Linked DNA regions of Homo sapiens: all the other regions are reported to be linked to region 1. The links are microRNA targets in miRTarBase. Many come from high-throughput screens and were not tested one by one. Region 1 holds a microRNA gene; each other region holds the end of a gene's coding sequence.
What was found. The annotated mature microRNA hsa-miR-155-5p reads UUAAUGCUAAUCGUGAUAGGGGUU and lies in region 1 at 1,826-1,849, opposite strand. An mRNA with a match to its seed (bases 2 to 7 or 8) in the 3' UTR can be bound and repressed. Matches are read on the target gene's strand: a 7mer-m8 pairs with bases 2 to 8, a 7mer-A1 pairs with bases 2 to 7 and ends in A, and an 8mer does both.

Region 2: the mRNA of CLTA is a reported target of hsa-miR-155-5p. The part of its 3' UTR that is shown has no 7-base or 8-base seed match.
Region 3: miRTarBase lists RTN3 as a target of hsa-miR-155-5p. Seed matches in the 3' UTR shown: 7mer-m8 at 2,899-2,905.
Region 4: miRTarBase lists ZSWIM6 as a target of hsa-miR-155-5p. Seed matches in the 3' UTR shown: 8mer at 2,333-2,340.
Region 5: the mRNA of KCTD3 is a reported target of hsa-miR-155-5p. Seed matches in the 3' UTR shown: 7mer-m8 at 1,881-1,887 and 7mer-m8 at 1,487-1,493.

The regions. Positions count from the first base shown.
Region 1 is chr21:25,571,186-25,575,831 of GRCh38, reverse strand. It overlaps MIR155 (microRNA 155), which reads right to left and starts at 1,852; the gene lies at 1,788-1,852. MIR155HG (MIR155 host gene) reads right to left here. Exons shown (of 3, transcript NR_001458.3): 3 at 664-1,939. RefSeq lists an enhancer at 28-177 and a silencer at 1,729-1,908.
Region 2 is chr9:36,209,870-36,214,475 of GRCh38, reverse strand. CLTA (clathrin light chain A) reads right to left here. Exons shown (of 5, transcript NM_001833.4): 5 at 2,417-2,873. The coding sequence ends at 2,702. It overlaps LOC124902151 (a long non-coding RNA gene), which reads left to right and starts at 465. Exons shown (of 2, transcript XR_007061474.1): 1 at 465-1,190. GNE (glucosamine (UDP-N-acetyl)-2-epimerase/N-acetylmannosamine kinase) reads left to right here. Exons shown (of 12, transcript NM_005476.7): 12 at 1-35.
Region 3 is chr11:63,757,212-63,761,857 of GRCh38, reverse strand. RTN3 (reticulon 3) reads right to left here. Exons shown (of 9, transcript NM_001265589.2): 9 at 1,976-3,702. The coding sequence ends at 3,657. It overlaps ZFTA (zinc finger translocation associated), which reads left to right. Exons shown (of 5, transcript NM_001144936.2): 5 at 1-1,966. Among named protein-coding and RNA genes, the nearest start is that of ZFTA, 9.2 kb to the left of the region's middle. RefSeq lists an enhancer at 1-243.
Region 4 is chr5:61,543,057-61,547,702 of GRCh38, forward strand. It overlaps ZSWIM6 (zinc finger SWIM-type containing 6), which reads left to right. Exons shown (of 14, transcript NM_020928.2): 14 at 399-3,116. The coding sequence ends at 1,261. Among named protein-coding and RNA genes, the nearest start is that of LINC03122, 92 kb to the right of the region's middle.
Region 5 is chr1:215,618,575-215,623,136 of GRCh38, reverse strand. It overlaps KCTD3 (potassium channel tetramerization domain containing 3), which reads right to left. Exons shown (of 18, transcript NM_016121.5): 16 at 4,067-4,251; 17 at 3,846-3,984; 18 at 1,330-3,080. The coding sequence ends at 2,519. USH2A (usherin) reads left to right here. Exons shown (of 72, transcript NM_206933.4): 72 at 1-246. Among named protein-coding and RNA genes, the nearest start is that of KCTD3, 54 kb to the right of the region's middle.

The DNA.
Region 1 (4,646 bases):
TGTAGATATACAGTGGCAGATAAAATGAATTGAACAGACACTTTTTTTTTTTTTTGAGATGGAGTCTCACTCTGTCACCCAGGCTGGAGGGCAGTGGCACGATCTTCGTTCACTGTGAACTCCACCTCCTGGGTTCAAGTGATTCTTCTGCCCCAGCCTCCTGAGTATCTGGGATTACAGGCACGCACCACCATGCCTAGCTAATTTTTGTATTTTTAGTAGAGACGAGGTTTCACTATGTTGGCCAGGGTAGTGTAGAACTCCTGACCTCAAGTGAACCACCCGCCTTGGCCTCCCAAAGTGTTGGAATTATAGGCGTGAGCCACTGTGCCTGGCCTGAAGAAACACTCTTGAATGTGTTCTACCTACATGGGAGCTCCGTGGAGCCACAAGCTCATTCCAGGTGTTAGGAGAAGAAATTTGTGTTGGCAGCACATACAACTTGAACAGAAAGTGAGGAGAAGAAATTTGTCTTGGCAGCACATACAACTTGAACAGAAAGTGGGGCAAAGCCAAATGGGTATTCTTACATGAGAATACTGTGTCCTAGGAGTCAGGAATGTTCCCTTTAGTGTCCTCATAATTTTCTTCCATTGTCTTTTTTTGGCAGATAGCTTCTGGAATTATAATTTGTACTTTGCAAAAGAAAATGGGCCATAAAAATTATTTTAAATCAACTAAAGACTCATGAGATTTATTTGGTTACAGTGAATAACCTGGACAAAATGTTGAGAAGAGTTGTTAAAACAAGTTTACATTAAATATACTAACAATTACGTTTGGTTACATATTTGTAAGTGATGGTTATTTAGAAAAACTGCATAGAAATCCAAACCTTAAATATTCTGCAAATCAAATCATTAGCTTTTCTCTTCTCTAATAAAGTAGGGTGACTAGTTCTTGGATTAATCTAACTATAACATTAATGTAGCACTTGATTATCTTATGGAATAATTCTCTATCTCATCTAAGCCTCACAACAACCTTGTAAAGTATTATCCCCATATGGAGGAAGAAACAGGCTTAGAAGTGGAAAGGTAGATTCTCTGCTCGCACAACCGTATTATGTGGCTAAGCTATTGAACTTGAACCTAGATTTGGGACTTCATTTCAAATATGAAATTTTTTGATTAAATCTTTTTATCTTGTATGGAAAAAATATCTCATTAGCTGTCAGATGTTATTTACCCTGCTAACTGTTAAAAATATTTCATTAAAAAAATTCAGCTTCATAGCCTTTCAGTTTCCCTTTAAGAGTCAAATAAAAGTATTAATTTTAAACTGAAGTTGCCTGAACAGAAAATCGTTACCTGGGGGAAAGTACCAGTTTCTAAATCTTTTAAAAAACGTTGCCAGACAATCCATGATATAACTGGAGGTTAGTAGTCCTTCTAATTTTTAACTACAAAAATATTATAGAAATTTGTGTTTAGCCCACATTTCTAACAGTTGAATCAAAGGTGTTTATGAACATTATAATGAACAAGCCAAAACCTGCAATTAAGAATGACATGAATATATTTTCTGTTAATGATAAAAACAAACATGGGCTTGACATTTAAATGAAAATGTTTGCATTTAGGATACTACTGATAAATCTTTTAAATAACCTTACTTTCAAAACTTAGTTTAAGGTTGAACATCCCAGTGACCAGATTATGATTAACAGATTGAAAAATGATAAAGCCTGAAGTCTAAGTTTATCCAGCAGGGTGACTCATGCTTCTTTGTCATCCTCCCACGGCAGCAATTTGTTCCATGTGAATGCTAGTAACAGGCATCATACACTGTTAATGCTAATATGTAGGAGTCAGTTGGAGGCAAAAACCCCTATCACGATTAGCATTAACAGCATACAGCCTACAGCAAGCCTTCAGCACTCAGAGGATGAGGCATAAAGAATTTAAACCACAGATTTCCCCTTCCTGGTTTGTGCCACCTGCAAGAGAGAAAGAAATGTTTGTGTATGCACATGCGGTTATAAAGCTGGAGTGACAGCATATAGTAAATCTGAAAGGAAAATAGTCCATTTTCTGTTGAAAGGAAGGAGCTCATTAAATCCTTGGAAGTAATTTTTTGAAAGTGGTAGAGAAATTGGCAATTAAAAGATGACATTGTTACCTTTAGGCATATTTGAAGACTTTGAAAATTATGTTTTAAATTCTATTCTCTAGTTTTGAATCGGGTACACATATGTATCATCTTCTTTAAATAAAAAACAAAAACCGCTCTTCGGAGTTTTCAAATGCCAAAATGCAAAGAGGAAAGCTTGCATTCTGACACAGTACAGTTTTTTTTTTTTCTGATTTGTACTTCATCTAGGAGCTAGACAATTAAAGGCCCAAATGTTCAAAATAGTCCTTTATGATTTATGAAAATTAAAACCCAATTAACCTGTTTTATAAGGGTAGGGTTCAGGCTGAATTTTTCTTTCTGTAATACATAGTTGAAGTTTTACCTTTATTCTTTCAGGAAATGTGATACAAGCAATGGAGGTTTGCCTACAAACGAATCTATCTGAAAATGTCCCCGTCTACTATTTAGAGATTCCTTTGGGGAAAGCACTACCCAGTGGCTTTGGTTTTGACTACATAAAGGAAGTATGACTTAAAGAGTCCTCTGTGTTTCAAACTACTTGTCTTAGGCAGAGGGTTGATTAAAAAAAAGAACAAGATGAATTTGCTACTTCCTTTTAGAGTCTGATTTTACTCTCTCAGATAAAGTGACATTTCTCCCACAGGTTTCTGATTTCAGTGTTACTATAACAGAACCTAGAAGTTAGAGTATCATTCAAGTATGTGGTCTCCTGCAGTACAAGAGGGGAATCACCTTTTCTTTTATTTAATAATGAAACCAGCTAGATATAAAAATGTGACTAAGTTCAAAAGAAACGTATGAAGTAAAAAATTCCCCAGTGAATATATTTTGACAGGGCAGAATATCGTGGTTTGGAAATTTCCAAACCAAGGAAATATATTATTCTTACTGATAGTATTTTTTTTTAAACTTTACTGTTTTCTGAGATGAATTAGTTGATGATGAAAAAATTTGGGTTAAATGATGTCACTTCAGGAATTCAATTCATTTTACAGAATTTCAGTCAATAAAGATTGTAAAAACAAGGACTTTTTTTCCCCCTTACAGGGTCCTGGACACAGTAAATGCTCAATAAATACATATTAATAATGTAGTGTTAGTGCCACCCCAGCCAATATAACTCGCCCTTTTCTTAAAAGATGTGTTTAATTTGTATTGAAGGTAAATTGCTGGCATACTATTCTACCCATAAATTTTATTCCTGTTCTTTAAAGATAACATATGAGCACAGGTATTAAAATAAATATATTTAGTATACTAATTAGCTTTTTCCCTCTTTTTAAATATACATACGAATTGCCTGATTAGAGCACTCAGAAAAGTGACAGTGTTTTTGATAATGTGTTATATATATTAAAAATTCTAATAGCTTTTTTTATTTGTTCAAACTCTAAATGTATATTGAAATAAAACATGTCACACAGGTCCCCTTTTGTTCTCAAACACAACCTTGTCATACAGGCATGATGAATTCCGAACACTGCAGAGAAATGAGAAGTTTGTCTAAATATACTATAGAACCTTAGGTCATATTTAAAACACAATGATAGATGAAAAACATTAATGAACAGAAGAAAGGAGAAATATCCCAGAAAAAAAAAAAAATATATATATATATATATATATTCTACAATTTAAAAATAGTAGACTTTTAAGGACATTAGAATGACTAGAAGGTCATTCATTCATCAGTGTGGAGTCTATGTCCACTTCCAGTGTTTTTGACTGGGCTAAGCAACCAACAACAGAATTGCTATATGCCTGAGTGGGAATTAGTGGTCATAGACAACAAAGGCCAGTCTATTAGCCAAGGCACTGGGCAGAGGGTGCTTTCATGAGGTAATAAGAAATAAAGTAGTTCTTTCTGGAATCGGTGTGGCCACCAGCTGGTAAAGTGGCAGGGGAAGAATTATACACAATTATAGGCCTGACAATCAGTAGTGACAGTGCTAACCAAGTAAGAATGTGACAAGCATAATGTTTAATGTATAGCAATGCAAGAGTAATTTATATGAATTATATATTAGAAATTAGACTGGGGTCTTTGACTAGGTAGTTCTGCAGATATACTTCCAGTCCCCTCACTCCACAATACTTCTTAGGCCTACCACATGAAATATCCATTGTCAGTATAAGTTTTACTGTGTAGCATAGGTTCCAAGTTAAATGTTCTTAACAAATTACTACACACTGTCTGAGTATCAAAATCATTCCTTCTCACAGTAGGTAAAAATCTACCAAGAGGAAGCACTATGTATACTAGATTAATGATAACACCAAGGATCTTTCATTATATGACAGGCAATTCTTCCTCTGGTGCTAAGAATGAAGCTGAAGGTGGCACTTTGGGAAATTTTTCCTTAAATTATGCTTTCCTGAAGGACAATTTTTTTGGGGGGGGTGGAGTGTGAGCATAAGATTTAAGAATATCTGGCTGGGTGTGGTGTCTCATGCCTGTAATCCTAGCATTTTGGGAGGCCGAGGTGGGCGGATCATGAGGTCAGGAGTTTGAGACCAGCGTGACCAACATGGTAAAACCCCGTCTCTAC
Region 2 (4,606 bases), not on the chromosome of region 1:
TCTAAAGAAAAAATAAATACATTTCCTTGTTGAAATCCTGTTGTATTTTGTTTTGTTCGTAACTCATTAGCCAAAAGCATTTTCCTTCCCAGAAGAGATTTAATTGTTGCACTGCTTACGTTTTGAAGGTTATATAACTTCCTTAAGGCCTCTAATATCATTGCTTTCTTAACCAAAAAAAGTCTATTAATAGAAAGCATGGCTGGGCATGGTGCCTCATGCCTGTAATCCCAGCACTTTGGGAGGCTGAGGCAGAAAGATTGCTTGAACCCTAGAGTTCGAGACCAGCCTGGGCAACATGCCAAAACCCCATCTCTACAAAACAATACAAAAAAAATTAGCCAGGCATGGTGCAGTCTCAGCTACTCAGGAGGCTGAGGTGGGAGGATCACCTGAGCCCGGGAAGTGGAGGCTGCAGTAAGTTAGTTATGATCATGCCATTGCACTCTAGCCTGGGCGACACAGTGAGACCCTGTCTCAAAAACAACAAAAACAAAACATTGCTATATATAACATTGAAAATTTGGCATAAAAAAGCAAAGTAGCCCCCAAGAAAGAGGTTTGAAACTAAGTGTTAAGCATTTACTGAGTCCCTAGACCCACTCCCTCTTTTTATGAGGCCCTATGTGGGTCTCATACAGGCATTAGAAACAATCCCAAATTACTATTGCTGTGTAACCTCAAAACTGAAGAGCTTAAAACAACAGTAATTGTTTCACGTCGTGGTTTCTGTGGGTCAGGATTTGGGAAAGGCTCAAACTTGACAGTTGTAGCTCAAGAGTATCCTGCACTTGTAGTTGTCAGCTGGAATAGCACGAGGCTGGCTGGCCAGGCATCTCCCAATGTGTGTGGTTACAGGGTCTCTCAGGTGGCCTCTCTGTGGGCTAGTTTGGGCTTCCTCACCACATGGGTAGCTTCAAAGGTAGAATTTTTTATGAGGCGGCTCAGGGCCACCAGCTAGTTGCTCCAACAAATCAACCATCAGCAGCACTGCCTTTTATGACCTAGCCTTGGAAGTCATCCCAGCATCACTTTTGTCACATTATTCAGTCACCTCTCCATCTAGAGAATGTCACAGATTTTGTTGACATTTAAAATTGCCACCTCCCACCTCAAGAAGCCCAGCTGGTGTGGGAGGCAAGACTGGTCCAGACGATGGCACCAAGACTACCAAAAATAAGCTGCCCCAGGTAGATGGCCATGGGAGTTCAGGGGAAGGGGGGTGGCCTTTGAACTAGTTCTTAAATTGGATTTTGACATTTGGAATGGGATTAGCAGGTCCCGTAGGAACAAAAGTCTGGGAACAATGATTGCTTGATTGTAATAAGATTTGACTAAAGGGGGAGGAATAAGCAGAGGCCAGAAATGTGGGCCAGGTCAAGGAAAGCCCAACTAAGCTTGGAAACGGGGAGGTAGCAGGAAAAGTAATGAAAGCTCCTTCCAGCCAAAAATAATTAACATTGAAGAGATAGTGGCCTTTCCTTCTTGGCAATGGCAACACCTAACCCCCATCCTGAGCATAGTATTACAGTTTACCTCAATCTCCAGTTTGGAAGTACCAGGTAGTTATAAGCAGATTACTGAAATATAGCTTTAATAATTGCTTGGAACATCACCTAAAACGAGCCAGGTACTATGCCAGGTTCTGAAGACAGATAATGAACTTACTGGTGTCTGAACAAAGCACGGGCTCCTGGAAACACCTGTGGTAGATCAGCATGGTCCAGTGCAGCTTTCTGCGACCATGGACATGTTCTATAACCTGTGCTATCCGAGTGCCACCTAACCACATATGGCTACTGAGCACATGAATTGTGACTAGGACTAGAAATGTATTTTAAATTCATTTAAATAGCCACATGGGCCTGGTGAATACTGCACTGGACAGCACAGGTCTAGATGAAGGATTTTACAAGAGAAATATGAACCAAGTGCTTGGGATGGCACAGAACCCAACATGTGCTACAGGACTCAACAGTAATGGGGCTAGCCACACATGAATGCCGTCCTGACTCAGGCTTACTGGCCGGATCCAAAGGAGTCAAGGTCTTACTAGAGTCTACGTGCCCCACAGACTCCTGCCGAAATATACTATCCAAGACCCTAAACTGAGGGACACTGGCAAGCAAGAGCCCATCTGGGAGAAAACGACTAGGTTGGTGAGAGGATTCACAGCTGTGTCTTAGGTAGATAATGAGGGGGTTAACCTTCAGCCACTAAACTCCCTTCTCAAATGAAAATGTCCACAGGATCCCACTCTAGATCCCGGTGCTATCTTAGTTCAAGGCAGGGCTGTGTGCCCAGTGGCTGTGCCTCCTCAGCCCTAGAAATTTCAAGGAAATTCCTCCTGGAAATTCCTTCCAACCTCACTCCAAACTACAACACATCTTGAGGTCAATAAAGAAGCTTCACATAATACAGTTTGAAACAGAAATTTATTCTCAGAATAATGCACAGAAGCACAGGTTGAGGCTACTCTTGGGAAGCTTCCCTCCCCTTCCTCTTCCTCCTCTCCCTCCTCTCTGAATGCCAGGGAGAACACAGTTGAAGGAAGGAAACATGCAATCACAAACAATGAACAACTCTAAAGACAAAAAGGTTTGGTCCAAAAGAACTCAACATAATTAATCCAATGACTGTGAAGAGCTTCACTGAGTAGGATTAAGATATTGCAGATGTAGTGTTTCCACAGGGTGGCTCTTCAGTGCACCAGCGGGGCCTGCTTGAGGGAGATGAGGACTGAGCGCATGCGGGAGACATCTTTGGCCTGCTTGCTAGACTTGGGGTTAAAGTCACACAGCCGGGCCACCCGTTCCCACTCAGTGCCTGGGGACGACTCGTCAATGTCATTTACAAAGGCTTCTTCTGCTGCCCTGGAAGCAACAACAAAATATGTTGGTTTATGCAGAACCCCCTTTGAGCAACCTGGTGGCTGCCTTGCTACACAAGCAACTGCCTATTTGTCCCTTTCTTAATGACATTCTGGCTTTCCCAAGATAACAGCCCCTGGCCCAGGTCAGACTCAGGTAGACACGTAGCTGGCTCTCCTAGGCACAGGGTGCCCAGACCGCTGTGTAAAATGTTGGAATACAGGTGTTTGGTTCAAGGCTCACTATGTCTCTCTGTCTGTCTCTGCTCCTGTGGAGCATTAATAAAACAAGTCCTTAGCCAGCTACACACTGCTTTTATTAATAAGAACAAAGCAGCAGGCTGATCAAGAACTTGAGTAGTTTATGCTGGGCTGTACTGAATTTCAAGGAAATTTAGAGACTTCTAAAAAGCCCACAGATCATTGCACAATAGCCTCTAGATTTATTCCTAAGGCTGGAGAGAAACGGGGCAGATCAAAAGGAATTCAAGACAAAGCTCCCATGCTAGCAAGCACTAGAGACTAAAGCCATTCTGGAAGGGGGTTTGTTAGGACATTCTCCAGTTCAGCCAAAAGTTTGCCATTTTCCCTCCAGCCAGGTGCCTTGGGGCCACTCAGGGCACACTGGCAGGAGAGCCAACGTGAGTTGCTTTTTGGCAGGATGCTGCTCCAACATTCTTTCACATCAAGGTCAGCCCACCCCCAGTTCGGAATTAACTGGTGGGAGCTACAGCCGGAAAGGACAGCGCTAAGACACACTATATTCATCTACTCCAACAAGCATCACGGGCAAAGCAAAAGCAATGGAGATGACTGGTCTGTGGGGACGGAGGGGTGGCACTATCACAGGGATGGCCGTGGCAAACACCGCTGAAGCCCAGAGCCACTACAACACTGCGACTTCATGGCACACACAGTTAGGGGCAGTGAGAAAGGTTTACTTAACTGTTCTAGGCTGTAGCAAGGATGGTTTATGTTTGTGCTTAAAGGTGAAGAGAAGAAAAGAAACGAGAGAAACTTTAAGTCAGATATAGAAAATGAGAATGAGCTCAATGCAGATGGTCAGTAAGCTGGACATGCCCTTGCCACTCTATCTGTGCTTGGGGACGTGCAGCTGGCTTTGCTGGCCACCCAGCTGCCCAGCAAAACCAGACTCGACCTTTCCAGTCTCCATTTCTACTCCAGAGAGAATGTGCAGAAATCAAATCAAACACCACCTGTAAGTCCAGCATTTCACAAGTCTCACTGCAAATGCATCTGGGGGCCCAGGAAACCCAGTTCTATCTTCTAAGGGGATGAACATCTCAAGGTCATAGGCCCTGAGAGGCTCTACAGACCTGAGCTCATCGCCCACCTTCCACAGGTTCCTCTCCTCTTCCATTCCACCCTTACTTCTCATGTAAAGCCAGCCCTAATTTTTAAGGAGGAGACAATGAGAACTGTTTCCAACTCTTCAGCAATACTGCTTTGATAAAAGAAATCCTTAAAAAAAAGAAAAAAGAAAAAAAGAAAAAAAAAAGAATAAGAAAAACACCTTCTCCAGAGAAGATGCAGGTTTCTTTTGGGGGGGTCAGGGGGAGAAGCCCAAGTGGCCCGTATCAAGACACTTTGACTATCCTGATCTCAAAGCTGGGGGCTTCCCTGTGCTAGGAGACAGGACATCAGAAGCTGACCACTAAATAGCAATTTCTGACATGCAAGACCACAGAGGAACAATTATAGACACCCACTGGAGAC
Region 3 (4,646 bases), not on the chromosome of region 1:
CCCCTCCTCTCATCCCTGACCCCCAGGCCAGAGCCTAAGGTTCAAGTGCCTCAGGCCCAGTCCCCTTGACGCTTCCTGTTTGGGAGTTGGATTTTATACCACGGATTTTATAGCATTTTTATATAATTGAGGATTGTCAGAATTGGAAAGGGCCCTGGAGATCACTAGTACTACCCTCCTCACCTTCACAGATAGGTAAATTGGAGCCCAGGAACCGAGATGATCACACAGCCAGGTAGGGACAGTACAAGAACTAGAATGAAAATCCTAGCTCCTGACTCAGTGTTCTTTGCACGATGCCACACTGCTTCCCAATTCGCTGGTCAGTTATTAAAATTTGTCAGGCCTGCCGAAGGATTGACATGCTGGGCAATGCAGGCCACCACGGTGGATCTGTGACTCCTGAAGGTGGCAAAGCCCTGCACACTGCCTTGGGATGAGCACACTGAGCTCTGCAGGGCCTCAGCTGGAAGGCGCCATCCAATCGTCCTTCCCCTCCCCAGCAGAACTCCAGAGGTGGGGCGGCTGCCGCAGGGCCCAAGGCTGCCTCGGCAGGGGGCTTTGTGCTTTTTGTTGTGGAGGCCACCAGGGATTCAGGAAGATCCTGAATGGGTTGTCAATTGACTGAAAAGTAAATTCCCAGTGAGTTTGAACCTCCACGGTTTTTGAGACAGTATTAAAAGCTTGAGAACGGAGATTATGGATGGCACCAGGCTGGGCACTGCCATTCTTTTACTTTCCTTCATGCATTTTTTCGGATCCAGAGTATTAACACCACTTTTTTTACTCTGCCCATTCAAAAACAGTAGGCAAATTGGGGGAACCAATTTATAATCACTCAAGCCCACTGCCAAAGTTCGGATAAGCCAGGGCAGAGGGGTTAGATTCCCCCCCCTCCGTAGGCAGAGAGAGGCCTCAGGAGAGTGGACATCTTTACTGAGACAGCCCCAAACACACCAGTGGCTCTCAAAGTGTGTCCCTGAGACCAGCAGCATCACCTTAGGAATCTGCTAGAAATAAAAATTCTTGGGCCATACCCCAGGGTTACTGAATCAGAAACTTGGTTGGGGCCTAGCAGTGTTTTCATGAGCCCTCCATTGATCTTGATGCAGCTGAAGTGCCGGGCACCAGTGAAAGGGAAGGGCTGCGGTAGTGATTCCATTGATTCCTGCTTTGATGGAAGTTATGGCCTCACAGGTTAGACGTTGCAAGTTGAGTTGGCCCTCTTGCCTAGGTGTGCCTCCTTGCCTTGGGATTCTGACATGAACAGGTGAAGTCTCTTCATGATTTTTTTTGTTGTTGTTGTTAATGGTATGCTTGCTATTATGGCCAATATGTAAATGTTACTCTGAATACATATTTATATACCATGTTACTTAGTGACATTATTCAAACATTTGTATGCGTATTTGTGAAATTGTTTGCATCAGTCATTTAAAAAATATTTCAGCCTAAGTTTTCTAAGAGGTATGTTGAATACATTTTTAAAAGCCAGCTTAAGGGTCACAGCAGCCTTAGTTTAGGAGAAGAGCTAATCACAGGTGACCACTCAAGTTCTTTCAATGAAGACCTGATGATGTATTTAGTTCCCATTTTCCACGGTGATTGACTCAATTTAAGTGTATTGTGGCTATATGTAATTTACAGGCTGCTTTGCGTTGCAGGTGGGAAAATCTCCCAGGCTGGTGTGAGGCTGAACTGGGGTAAAAGACCCCCTGACCCCTCCTCATTCTTCTAAGGTCACCACCTCTTAGAGGGTCTCTTATTTTCTTTCAGAGATCAAATGCACAGTTATGCTGTACAACTAAATTCTGCAGTCTTGGGAATCCTTACGAGTACCAACTATTAGTCACTTTTTAAAGTCCCCAAAGTGGAGTGAGGATAGGGGGAGTGGAAGCAGTGTTTGGTTCTTACTTTACCCAAACTGTGTATAAAGAATAAAGTTAGCAGAATGATGCCACAGTCATTGTTTGTGTTTTTTTTTTTTTTATTAATACCACATCAATTTGAAATTTTACAGGAACCAAGATTCAAGCTCCTTAGGTGCTACTGTATTTTTATGTTGCACGCACAGACACGTACACACAGTTTCATTAGTAATTTTTCATCTATAGGTTTTTCTTAAAAAAAAAAAAAAATCCTGTGTGGCACAAAGATCTCTTCAATTATCTAAACACAGCAGCAACAAAAGAAAAGAACTGGATGTGGCACTTCCACTGCAGAAGGTCCTTTGGAGGGGAAGCCCAAAAAGACAATCACTGACTTCCTGGGAGGGCAGAGGATGAGGATGGAGAATGCACTTCCTACTAGGACATGAAACCAGTTAAAACACTCAAAGGGGGCTAAGAAAATAAGATGGAGTAAGGCAAGGGTACCTTTTACCCATCCAAATTCCTAACTAATTTTTCCAAGACACGTAGACAATTTCCTTCCACTACTTTTTGCAGCTGCCGTACTTTGGGACCATCAAATATCATAGCCCTTACTTTAAACTCGCCAGTGCATATTCCCTCTGAAGGATCATGACTATGAGTGAGAACCTGAAGGAACTCACAGATGATTTTTCTTTCAAGTTCGCTGAATTCTCATATTGAAGGTGAAGAAAAAAACTTGCCCCCAAATGGGAATCGGAGATTTGAATCTCGGGAAAAGATCAAGAAAAAAAGGCTTTCTGTATTTCACCTCTTGAGAATGTTCCCCCCCAGACTGAGATAGGATCACAAAAACTCAATAACTGAGGAGCCCACATGCAGGTTATTTTTTTCTCTAACAAGTTTACAGCAGTGCACAGCAGTTACAGACATTTATTTTATAGTAAGAAAAGTACAACCTTATTTATTAAACTTGAGGTGGGCAGGGGAGAGGGAGGAAAGCACATTCGGGAACGAGTTCTCAAACTAATGCTCAGAACCGGTGTCCAGTGACGTAGAAACCACTTTCCCAAATGGCGGAGCCTTTCCTTCCCTGGGGATAGTGGCAGAGGGAGTGACCGCCACCGCAGCATGCCTGCTGACTCCCTCTCAGTCCCACTTTCCATTTCTATTCTTTTTTATCAGATGGCATTCTTGGAATCAGGAATTATCACTATCACCTATAAGTTATTTATCAAGTTGATAGTTAAATCATTAAAGAAAAGGAGTATCAGGGGTAGCTGCTCACATTGTGGGGCAGGAAGATAGGATTTGAGGGCTGCAAAAAAAAACCAAGGAAGGTATCACACTCCTGTCCCCAAATAATTTTTTCATAAGTTAATCATGACTTCTTAAGGGCAAAACTATAATGGATAGCTGAGTAAGACTAGTGCTGAAAACTGGACAGAAGGACCCAGAGGTGTTCTTTCATTTTCTCTCTTACCTCCAATCTTTCCCCTTTCAAGCTACAGGTAAAGGCTCTACCACCATTAAGGTATTGACTTATCCTATGAATTTGATTCTTTCTTCTTCTGAGTTCTAAGATAGTTCTTTTATCAGTCCATCAATTTTTGTGCTTGATACTGAGGGTTAAAGGGAAAGGATGGGAGAAAACACCAAATTAAAAAAAAAGCTTGGAATGCAGGCTCAAGCTGACACTGAGTATTTTCCTTCATAGTACAAGTAACGACGTTATAACTATTAAATGGTGTTTTAGTAACTGTTGCATTTCTGGTTTCCATGTACTTATTCTGCCTTTTTTTTGGCGATTCCAGGGAGTTTTGCTTGGATCCTATTGAGAAAAGGAGGGGAAAAAGAAAGAAAGTGAAAACATTAGCATTTGCTCTAGGTTTTTATTTTAACTGTGATGCTAGAGGACAGTCCTGGACTTGCATAAGCAATGTGAAATGCATTCTCCCGGCTGGGTATGGTGGCTCACGCGTGTAATCCCAGCACTTTGGGAGTCCGAGGCAGGCAGATCATGAGGTCAGGAGTTGAAGACCAGCCTGGCCAATGTGGTGAAACCCTGTCTCTACTAAAAAATGCAAAAATTAGCCAGGCGTGTTGGTGTGCACCTGTAATCCCAGCTACTCAGGAGGCTGAGGCAGGTGAATGAAGGATAATCGCTTGAACCCGGGAGGTGGAGGCTGCAGTGAGCAGACATCGCACCACTGCACTCCAGCCTGGGTGACAGCGAGACTCCATCTCAAAAAAAAAAAAAAAAAGAAAAAAAGAAAAATGTTAACAAATTCAAAGCGTTAGGTTCACAGTATTTGCTATGAATAATTCAAAATAAAAGCAGGGCTCATGCCTGTAATCTCAGCACTTTGTGAGGCCAAGGTGGGAGGATCACTTGAAGCCAGAAGTTAAAGCCTGGCCTGGGCAACATAGTGAGACCCCCATCTCTATAAAAAATAAAAAATTTGCCAGGGCATGGCACATGCCTGTAGTGTCAGCTACTCAGGAGGCTGGGGTGGGAGGATCACTTGGAGCAAGGGAGGTCAGAGGTCAAGGCTGCAGTGAGCTTTCAGCTTGTGCCACTGCACTTCAACCTGGGTGACAGAGTGAGACCCTGTCTCTAGAAAGCAAAACAAAAAAGAAAGAAAAAAGAAAAAAGAAAAAAAATACTGTCCTCTAGGTATGGGGAAAAAAAGTAAAAAGAAGAAAACAACTCTTTGATATAGGGAGTCATAAAGATGTTTGTCAATATTTTATTTCCTGATTTATTAATTGGTT
Region 4 (4,646 bases), not on the chromosome of region 1:
CTTACACACAAGCACATAAGCCATGTAAAGTCCCTGTTTTGGTGAGGTTGCAATTTTTGAGCCTCAAATTCTGACAGGAAGCCCCAGTGAAGTAGAACTCATTAGCAAAAAGCCATTGTCTGAAATGGCAAGCAGCACAGTACAAATACCAGCTACCAAGAGGATTGGTTCTTTATTATAGCAAGTTCATGTTCCTTTCAGGCATTTCACTGAATAACAATTCATAATGACCTTATTCTTAAAGGTTTCTCACAGGCACATTACTTTACAGGATTTTCTAGCCTAGCTCATGTCCTATGATGGTTAACAATGTAAACACTGGTTGTAAAAGTCAAAATAAGGCAGGACCTCTGGGCAGCCTCCTCGTCAGTAATAGAGCCTGTTTGTGTTCCTTGCAGGGGTTTATGCCCTGGACAGCATCATGCAGACCTGGTTTACACTCTTTACTCCCACCGAGGCCACAAGTATAGTTGCAACTACCGTGATGTCCAACAGCACCATCGTCCGCCTCCACCTGGACTGCCACCAGCAGGAAAAGCTGGCCAGCAGCGCCCGGACACTTGCACTGCAGTGTGCCATGAAGGATCCACAGAACTGTGCCCTCTCTGCGCTAACCCTTTGTGAAAAGGATCACATAGCTTTTGAGACGGCGTACCAAATTGTTCTCGACGCTGCTACGACTGGCATGAGCTATACACAGCTCTTTACAATAGCACGGTACATGGAGCACCGCGGGTACCCCATGAGGGCCTACAAGCTGGCCACCCTGGCCATGACCCATCTCAACCTGAGCTACAATCAGGACACACACCCTGCCATTAATGATGTTTTGTGGGCCTGTGCGCTTAGCCACTCCCTTGGTAAAAATGAGCTTGCAGCTATAATACCTCTGGTGGTCAAGAGTGTCAAGTGTGCAACGGTACTGTCAGACATTTTGCGCAGATGCACTCTGACCACTCCTGGCATGGTGGGACTTCATGGGAGGAGGAACTCTGGTAAGCTCATGTCACTGGACAAAGCCCCCTTGAGGCAACTCTTGGATGCCACGATCGGGGCCTACATCAACACAACGCACTCACGGCTCACACACATCAGTCCTCGGCACTATAGTGAGTTTATAGAGTTCCTCAGCAAAGCCCGAGAGACCTTCTTAATGGCGCATGATGGACACATTCAGTTTACACAGTTTATTGACAACCTGAAACAAATCTACAAAGGCAAAAAGAAACTGATGATGTTGGTTCGGGAGAGGTTTGGTTGATAGATCTTGTATGAATGGGGTGGGGGGTGGGGATGGGAGGGATGGTTTGTTTTTACTTGAGCCTGCCTTTGTACCCTTTTTAACTTAAAGAACAGAGCCACACCGGTATTATATGTGTATAGTTATATTGCGTTTGCAGACTAAATTGTCATGTTGTGAAAGTTTGTGTGTTTTTTATTTTTTCCCTATTTCTTTCTTTCCTTTATTTTATTATTTTTTTTAATTTTTTTTTTCTGGTTTTGTATGAGAGAGAGGTTAAAAAGGTTTGGTTTACACTGAGTATATGTTGTCAAGTGGCAAAAGTCCACATAGCTCTCCTGTTTTCTGTATACGTTCACAGCCTCAAAAAAAATAATTGAAATGGCTTTAAAAACCAAACAAAACACCTCCATCCTGTGATAAGTACCTCGAATGGATTCAGCTTTACTCCTTTGTAACTCATCTTTACATTTTCAGCATATTTAAACAAACCAACAAAATGAAATACTAATAGTAAAAAGGCTGACCCATGTGGCTTTGCAGTGCTGTTCGTCCAGAAGCATGGCACACGATGCTTGTGCATGTGGAAACTTAGCGACTGTCAACATACATTCTCAGGGATTTATCCAAAAAAATTAAAAAAAGAATGAGAGCATTTATTGTACTGTATATATATTATAGTATATGTCTGAATATTGAAAATATAACATTAACTAATTTATAAAAAATATTCTATGTAATGCAAAATACTTGAAGCTGCAGTAGCTTGGTTTTAAACAAAAACAAAAAAAAAACTGAGAGAAAACCTATCAGAAGGACTAAAAGTACGCCTTGCTTCAGGGTTGGCTCAGGTGGTGAACTTCATGCTGGGCATCTATGCAGAGCCACCTTTTGGATTGCATGGTTGGACTGAGATCTATTGGGAGAAATTATATATGTATATATATTTATACAACTTATGTATACATATATATATGTATACACACAGACACACACACACACCACCAACAACCACCACTACACCACACATGCTTATAACAGGCACTAGAATAAAGAGGGACAACAAAATACACAGCCAGAGCAGCAAGCCTTAGCATTAAGAATATACAATATGCCGGAATTGGGGTTCGTGCCTCCTAGCCTAGGAAACTTAAAAGAAATATCCTTTTGACACAAAACACAAAATGTTTTCCAAAACAATTGACATAATGATACATTACGCCTTTGCAGTGAGCTAATAATAAGCTAACCTTTGTGCACAAATAACATTATATATATTATATATCTATTCTGCATAGGTATTTTGACTTTGTGCAGGACAGAAAGTTGTGTAGGTATGACTGTTCTACTTTTCAGTTTTCTTTTTTTTTAATATATTTTATTTTCTCTAGAAATTACTCAAACAAAAGCAGCCTTCTATCTTGCCTTGTCTTAATGCTTTAAAATAACCAAACTGGAGATCTAACTACCAAACTGTTCATTATATTATTAAATACCAACTTTGGTTACAGTATAGTGTCTTTACTTTAGCTGATGGTTCTGTAACCTTGTGCTTTTTAAAGCAATTTTTATGTTTTGGTGCAAAAGTTGTCCAGTGTCTCTTGTTCCCTTCACTAGAGAACATGCTTAGAGGTATGTTTGTAGGTATTTTTGTTTAGAAGAACTATTTCATGCGCTCCATTTTATTTATTATAATAGGTAAAAAGAAAAAAAAAGGTTGTAATTCATCACCCATGTAAACATGCTCATGAAGTTGAAAGTAATTAAGATTTGATACACTGATATCAATTTATTTATGTAACTAAATCACTGTTTTATAAACTTGTTAATGATCAACAATTTTTGTTTTGATTAAAATTAGTTTTTTGAAAGTTGATTCTGCCTCCTTTATGGTATATCTCTTATTGCACCTGAATTTGGTGATTATAGACTTGGGTAGTACTACGCCTCCAAGTGTCTAATACTATATTGACTCATCCAGTAAACGTTTATGTGCTATTTTCCAGGCACTGTGCTAGGCCCTGGAAATGTAATGGTGAACAAAATCAGACCCTGGACCTCACTGTCTGCTTAATGGAGAAGGCAGACATAAGCCAAATAATCACAAAGATAAAATATGAAACAGAATAGTCTGTTTTCTGTCTGAACCCTTGGTCGTTCCTCTAATAAGCTATAATTTAGGATGCTCAGTACTTAATATATTTAATAAAGGCTGAGTTTGTGAGATTTTCTTGTGTGTGTGGTTTAAAAGGAAGTTACATTATAAAGGGCAGATGCTACATGCACACCATAGTCACTTGTATCCAGTATTTCCATCAAGGATCTGTACCCAAAATGATGCAAATAGTTTTTGCGTGTATGTGGTTAAAAACAACATCACATAATTTACCATCTTAGGCATTTTGAAGTGTACAGTTCAGCAGTGTTAAAAATATTTACAAAGTTGTAAAACAGATCTCCAGAATTTTCTCATCTTGCAGAACTGAACTCTATATGCCCATTATGTGACTGCCCTTTTTCTCCTCCCTCCAGCCCCTGCTAGCCACAGCACTCTTGCTTTCTACTGTTACGATATTGTCTGTGATATTTTAGGCACCTCATGTAAGTGGAATCACAAAGTATTTGTCTTTTTGCAATGTTTATTTTACTTTTGTCCTACAGGCTCATCCATGTTGTAGTATGTGAGGGGATTTCCTTCTTTATGGCTGCATAGTTTTTCATTCATGTGTGTCTATATCACATCTAGTTTATTCATCCATCAGTGGACATTTGGATTCCTCCCACTTCTGGCTATTGTGAATAATGCTGCTGTGAACTTGAGGGTGGAAATACCTCTTTGAGGCCCTGCTTTCAATTCTTGTGGCTATATATCCAGAAGTGGGATTGACAAATACTTCTTTTAAATTCACAATTTTCAGAATACTTACTCCTTTGAAATGTTTTAAGTTTTTATTTGACATATAGTCTTAACAGTGGATTCCAAATGTCAAGAGGTTAAGTCGATAGGTGGAAGTTAAAGTAAATGAGTCCATGGTGACATTTAAAATCCCATTAATGCTAAGTAGAAATAAAAATAAAAACCATGAAGTGATTTGAAGGTTGATTCTTTTTTGTAAGTTTATTCTTACTTTTTTGGAAGTTGACATTGCCTGAGGGCAAATACAGTTTATGTGGGTCTACTGAAACGCTGGGACATTTCATAATGAAGTAGACTGTGATACGGTTAGGAAAGATGGCATCAAAGAAAGAAGAAAGGTGACTTCTAATAGTTAAGACTTTGAGATGTCCCCTGATGGAAATTGTTCTGTGTTAACTGGCCATTTTTGCAGAGAGATCTTAAACTCTCATGAGCTTTTAGAATACAGATGGAGACCAAGGATGACACGACTTGCCCACCCCCGTTTTA
Region 5 (4,562 bases), not on the chromosome of region 1:
TTTATAATCTACTGTAATTTCCACTAAATGGAACCCAAATATTAATGTTATGGTACCATATACTGATGTAAAAATCATGCTGGCATCCATGAACACACCGGTAAATAAAACATAGTCCAAGTGGAAGAATTCATTAATAAGGAACTTTTAATTATGTCACAAATGAATAGTTGGTTTCCAATGCACAAATATCATGTAAACTAATCTAAAGATGGTTTGCTTAATAAATATTTGAATGTGACCTAATTCTGGCTTAATCATCTATTTATTATTAAAAAATAATACTCTTAACAGCTCTGAGTTACACATAAATGATGATAAAGCTATACCTATTTAAGAAAGTAAGTAGGATGTTCTGGATAATTTCTCAACCAACAATGTACATTATTAGAATGAAAACTGTTTTATTTTTTTTTCCAAAATATACTATTATTATGTCTCAACCAGCAGAGATTCAAATTCAGCAGGACTGGAGTGGGAGTGAGGCCTGGGCAACCATGTGTCTAACCTCAGCCATTTCTGATACATAAGCCTGCATAAGAGCCAGGAACAGGACCATAGACTCTTGAAATAGAAAGATTTGGGTTCAGAAGTTGGCTCAGTAGGTAATAAGCCTTGTCACTAAGTTAGTTATTTAACCCCTGTGGGTCTCAGTGATCCCATCTGTGAAATGAGGATAACAACAACACTTACTTACTTACCCTATTGGTATGAAAATACTTCTTTCCATGAAAATAATTACAATTGTTTTCATTTTTCATCATCAATCACACAAAGTACACAGACTCATTTCAATTTTTTTTCTTCCCACCACAGCGACCCTAATGAGGTAGGTATAATGAAAAAATTAAGGCATAATGGGGGCAATCTGAGAAATTAGTGTCAGAGTAGACAGACATAAACCACTGCATCAAGGTTCAATCTCCTGTAAGCAAAAGAAAGAAACGATTTGACTTGTACTGTAATGCAATCTAGTATAGTCAGTTTCCTTTTTATGCGATTCTATTACATAATAGTTACTATCTTCTTTTTAATGGCCTTTTATTCCTGGTCACTAGAGTCTAGTTTTTTCTTTCATTTTCTTACTTGCCCACCCAACTTTCACATAACTGTCATAAAGAGGAAGAAGGGTGTAAGATAATTACAATCTTAGTAATTTTGAAATTATGCTTTGCCTAATATTTTCTTTCATTGATAATAACTTATTTTCCACATATATTAAGTTCTCCCTCCCCCCATTTTTTTTAAATTATGGGAAGAAGCAAAGAAATGAACAAACATATATAGCACACTTTAAACAGAACTGTTACTTAAATAACTGAAAACGCATTGACATAATCATTTTTATTTGATTTAATTGATAAATAAATACAAGAGAACTGTTGTGAAACCACTGGCAATATAGTAAATTTTAAAGATTTTATTTCAACTTCACTCACTTATATTTCTTGGAATGGGGATATATACATTATTCACCAATAAATGCTAATGCTTTAAATTTACAATTACCCTATTTGTAGAAACCTGAAGATCATTCCAATTAAATGAAAAAAAATTGTACAAAAACGTTCTTTTGCTCTTACAATTCAAAATACATTCAAATTCACATTCTTACAGCAGCCAAAACCTTTAACCCAAAATTCAGAACTGCAGTCCTACAAGTGAACAAACTAGTGTTTTAATTTAATTATCATGATTGTTGTTAACACTGAAAAAAAAACATGGTGGCTCCTGAAACAAGACAGGTTAGCAACTGGTACAGCTTTCCCTTCTGGGCACTCAAAGCTTTGCCCTTGATTATTATTTTTATTTCATCTTTTCAAACACAGACAATTGCTCCAACTTGAAAGTTTCAATGGAATTTTGGCATTTAATATTGCTAATGCTTGCTAAGATTTAAGATCTCCCAATGATGAGAATCAGAAAATGACGCACGACTAAATTAAAATCATCCTAAAAGACTTACTACATAGTGGTATCTGGTATTCAATATCAATAGTGTTTTTGAATTACATGATATGTTTTTCACAAACATAGCACCTCATCAAATATCTGGTAAACACTTTGCAATCACAATAAGTGTTGGGAGACCAAGTTCCAAAGACAATTATGTGATTCACTTAAAGGTAACATTGTAAGACAAGTCTCAGGCATAATGAAGATTAGGAATGCAGTCTGCTGGTTCCCATGATCTAAAGGGATGCTCACCTATATGGGCACCATCCTATTAAGACGTGGTAATATGTTTCCAAACCAAAAAAAGTCGGTAAGTGTTAAAATGGACTCCTGCTTTATAAATGATCTGTTAAATGTACTTGTAAAATTAAAAAAATTTCCAAAATGTCAAAAGAGATATGATTATTGTATCTCATTATTCCAAGTAATTCTGTTAAAAAGATACTAAATGAAGTCCAATTTTATCTTGTAAAGTTTTAGTGTAAAAACTAATGTACTGAAATTCAGTAAAGTTTAACTTTCATCTAAATGTAACGAAACAACTATTCATTTTGGTGAGTTTTCACAAGCTGTACTCCTGACCTGAAGAATCACTTTTTTTATGCCGAGGAGATGGAGTAGTCTTTGTAGGAGATGGGGACGCAGTACCAGGTGAGTCAGTTCCTCCATCGGAAGTACTTGGTGATGACGCCAGATAGGGAACTTTCTTTCTTCCAAGGAATCCTCCCCCTTCAAATCCTCCTTTCTTCCTAAACTCTATTTTATTTTCATTTTCATCTTCTGATGACCTTTTCTTGGATTCTGAAAAACCTTCAGCTATTTTATGCACTTCCAATCCACTATCCAATTCTCTCAAACTTTTTATTTCTACTCCAGGAGACTTTCTCTCAGATATATTACATTCCCCTGTTGCCCCTTTCACTTCAGCTTGTATTGGACCCAAGTTACCATTTTCAGGGACAGCTCTTTCTACATTTCTGTTCAAATTAATAGTCTGGAAGTCCCTATAACTGTGAAAGCTCTCAGTCCTTCTTGCCCTTGCTAATAAAGGACTTTCTCTGTAAGGCCTCATGGAACCGTAAGTAGCTGCTTCATGGGTGGTATCATGGTGCTGAAGCTGAAGGCTGAAATACAGTTTTTAAAAATGACAGTTCAGATTTCACTCTGTGATTTCTCAGGAACATATTAATTATACAACCAATAAAACACACTATATAAATACATAAAGTGTATTATATCCATATTTCTCTTTGTAAAAATATACTTATCAAGTACTCTTTATTATATAGATGGTATATAAAATTACCAATGCAAATAATACCATCATATATTCACAGACATGCTGAATTTTTGAACAGCTAAAAAAAAGATGGGAGGAAAAATCCTTGAAACCAATGTGAAACCATCATAATTCAGTATTTAGCCCTTGGTTCTTCAGACTTTGGAATTTATCAATATGATAACTAAAAAGACATTATGGAACTTTGTATTAAAATTACATAATGCTTAAATGTAAGACTAGACAACATAATAGAACCACAGATAAATATTGTCCCTGAGACAGGACAATAATTAAAGCTTCACATACTAACCAAGGTGACATGTAATTTTCCTAATTTCCTTTGAATAAATTCTTGATCACATAATAGGCTTCCAATTGGGCAGCAATTCACAAAATAAGTTAAAAGGTAAAAATGTTTTTCTATGAAAAGAACCAGATATGCCTATCAAGAAATTTGGTAAAACTGTTAAAAAGTTAACATAATGTCTGAATTTAAAATGTACCTTGAGAAGTATGGCTTTCTAGAACAACTATGTGATTACAATATTTCAGTCAATTTCCCCAAAAGAAATAAATTTTGTTTATAATACCCAACTCTTTAACCTACCTAGAATTTGATTCTCGTAAGTGGCTATGCTGAACTACGGAAGTTGCTGGACTGATGTTAGGAGTAGCACAGCGAGATGTGCTCAAATCACATTGATCGAGTAATTTGAGTAGCTCTTCTTCGGTTGGACCACCTACATCTTAGGAGAACAAATAGTCATTAAAATCACTTAAGTGAAAAGCTTAACCTTGTGACAAACATCTTTCTGTATGAGAACCTACCCTTATCTTCACTTTTGTTAACCATATCCATAGCAGTGGTCAGATCCCACATTTGAATACTGCCATTTGTATGGCCTGTGAACAAGTAGCGCCTTGGTCTTGAGCCCATCCTACTGGATCCCTCACATTCCCTCACTGTAAATGAGGATATTGTAGTACAGTCAACAGCCTGGATCTCACATATTCTGCAAAAGAAAAGCAGAAAGAGCCCTGATGGGAATGAGCAATTATTTAAAAAGAAGCTATGAAACTAAAAAGACAGAAAGAAAGAAAGCAAACATGTTATACTAGAAAAGACTTTTAAAAAATCATTTAAAATTTATGTGTAAATCTTTAAAATCTGAAACCAGAAAAAATATACAGCTCTATGGAGATGGCCCATATTGTATCCATCATTAGGATAATACTCAACTTCAAAAAAAGATTTTTATGACTTTTTAGTTGATTTTCATAAAAGATAAAAGAACCTGAGAGAGAACAATTTTTATCCACATTG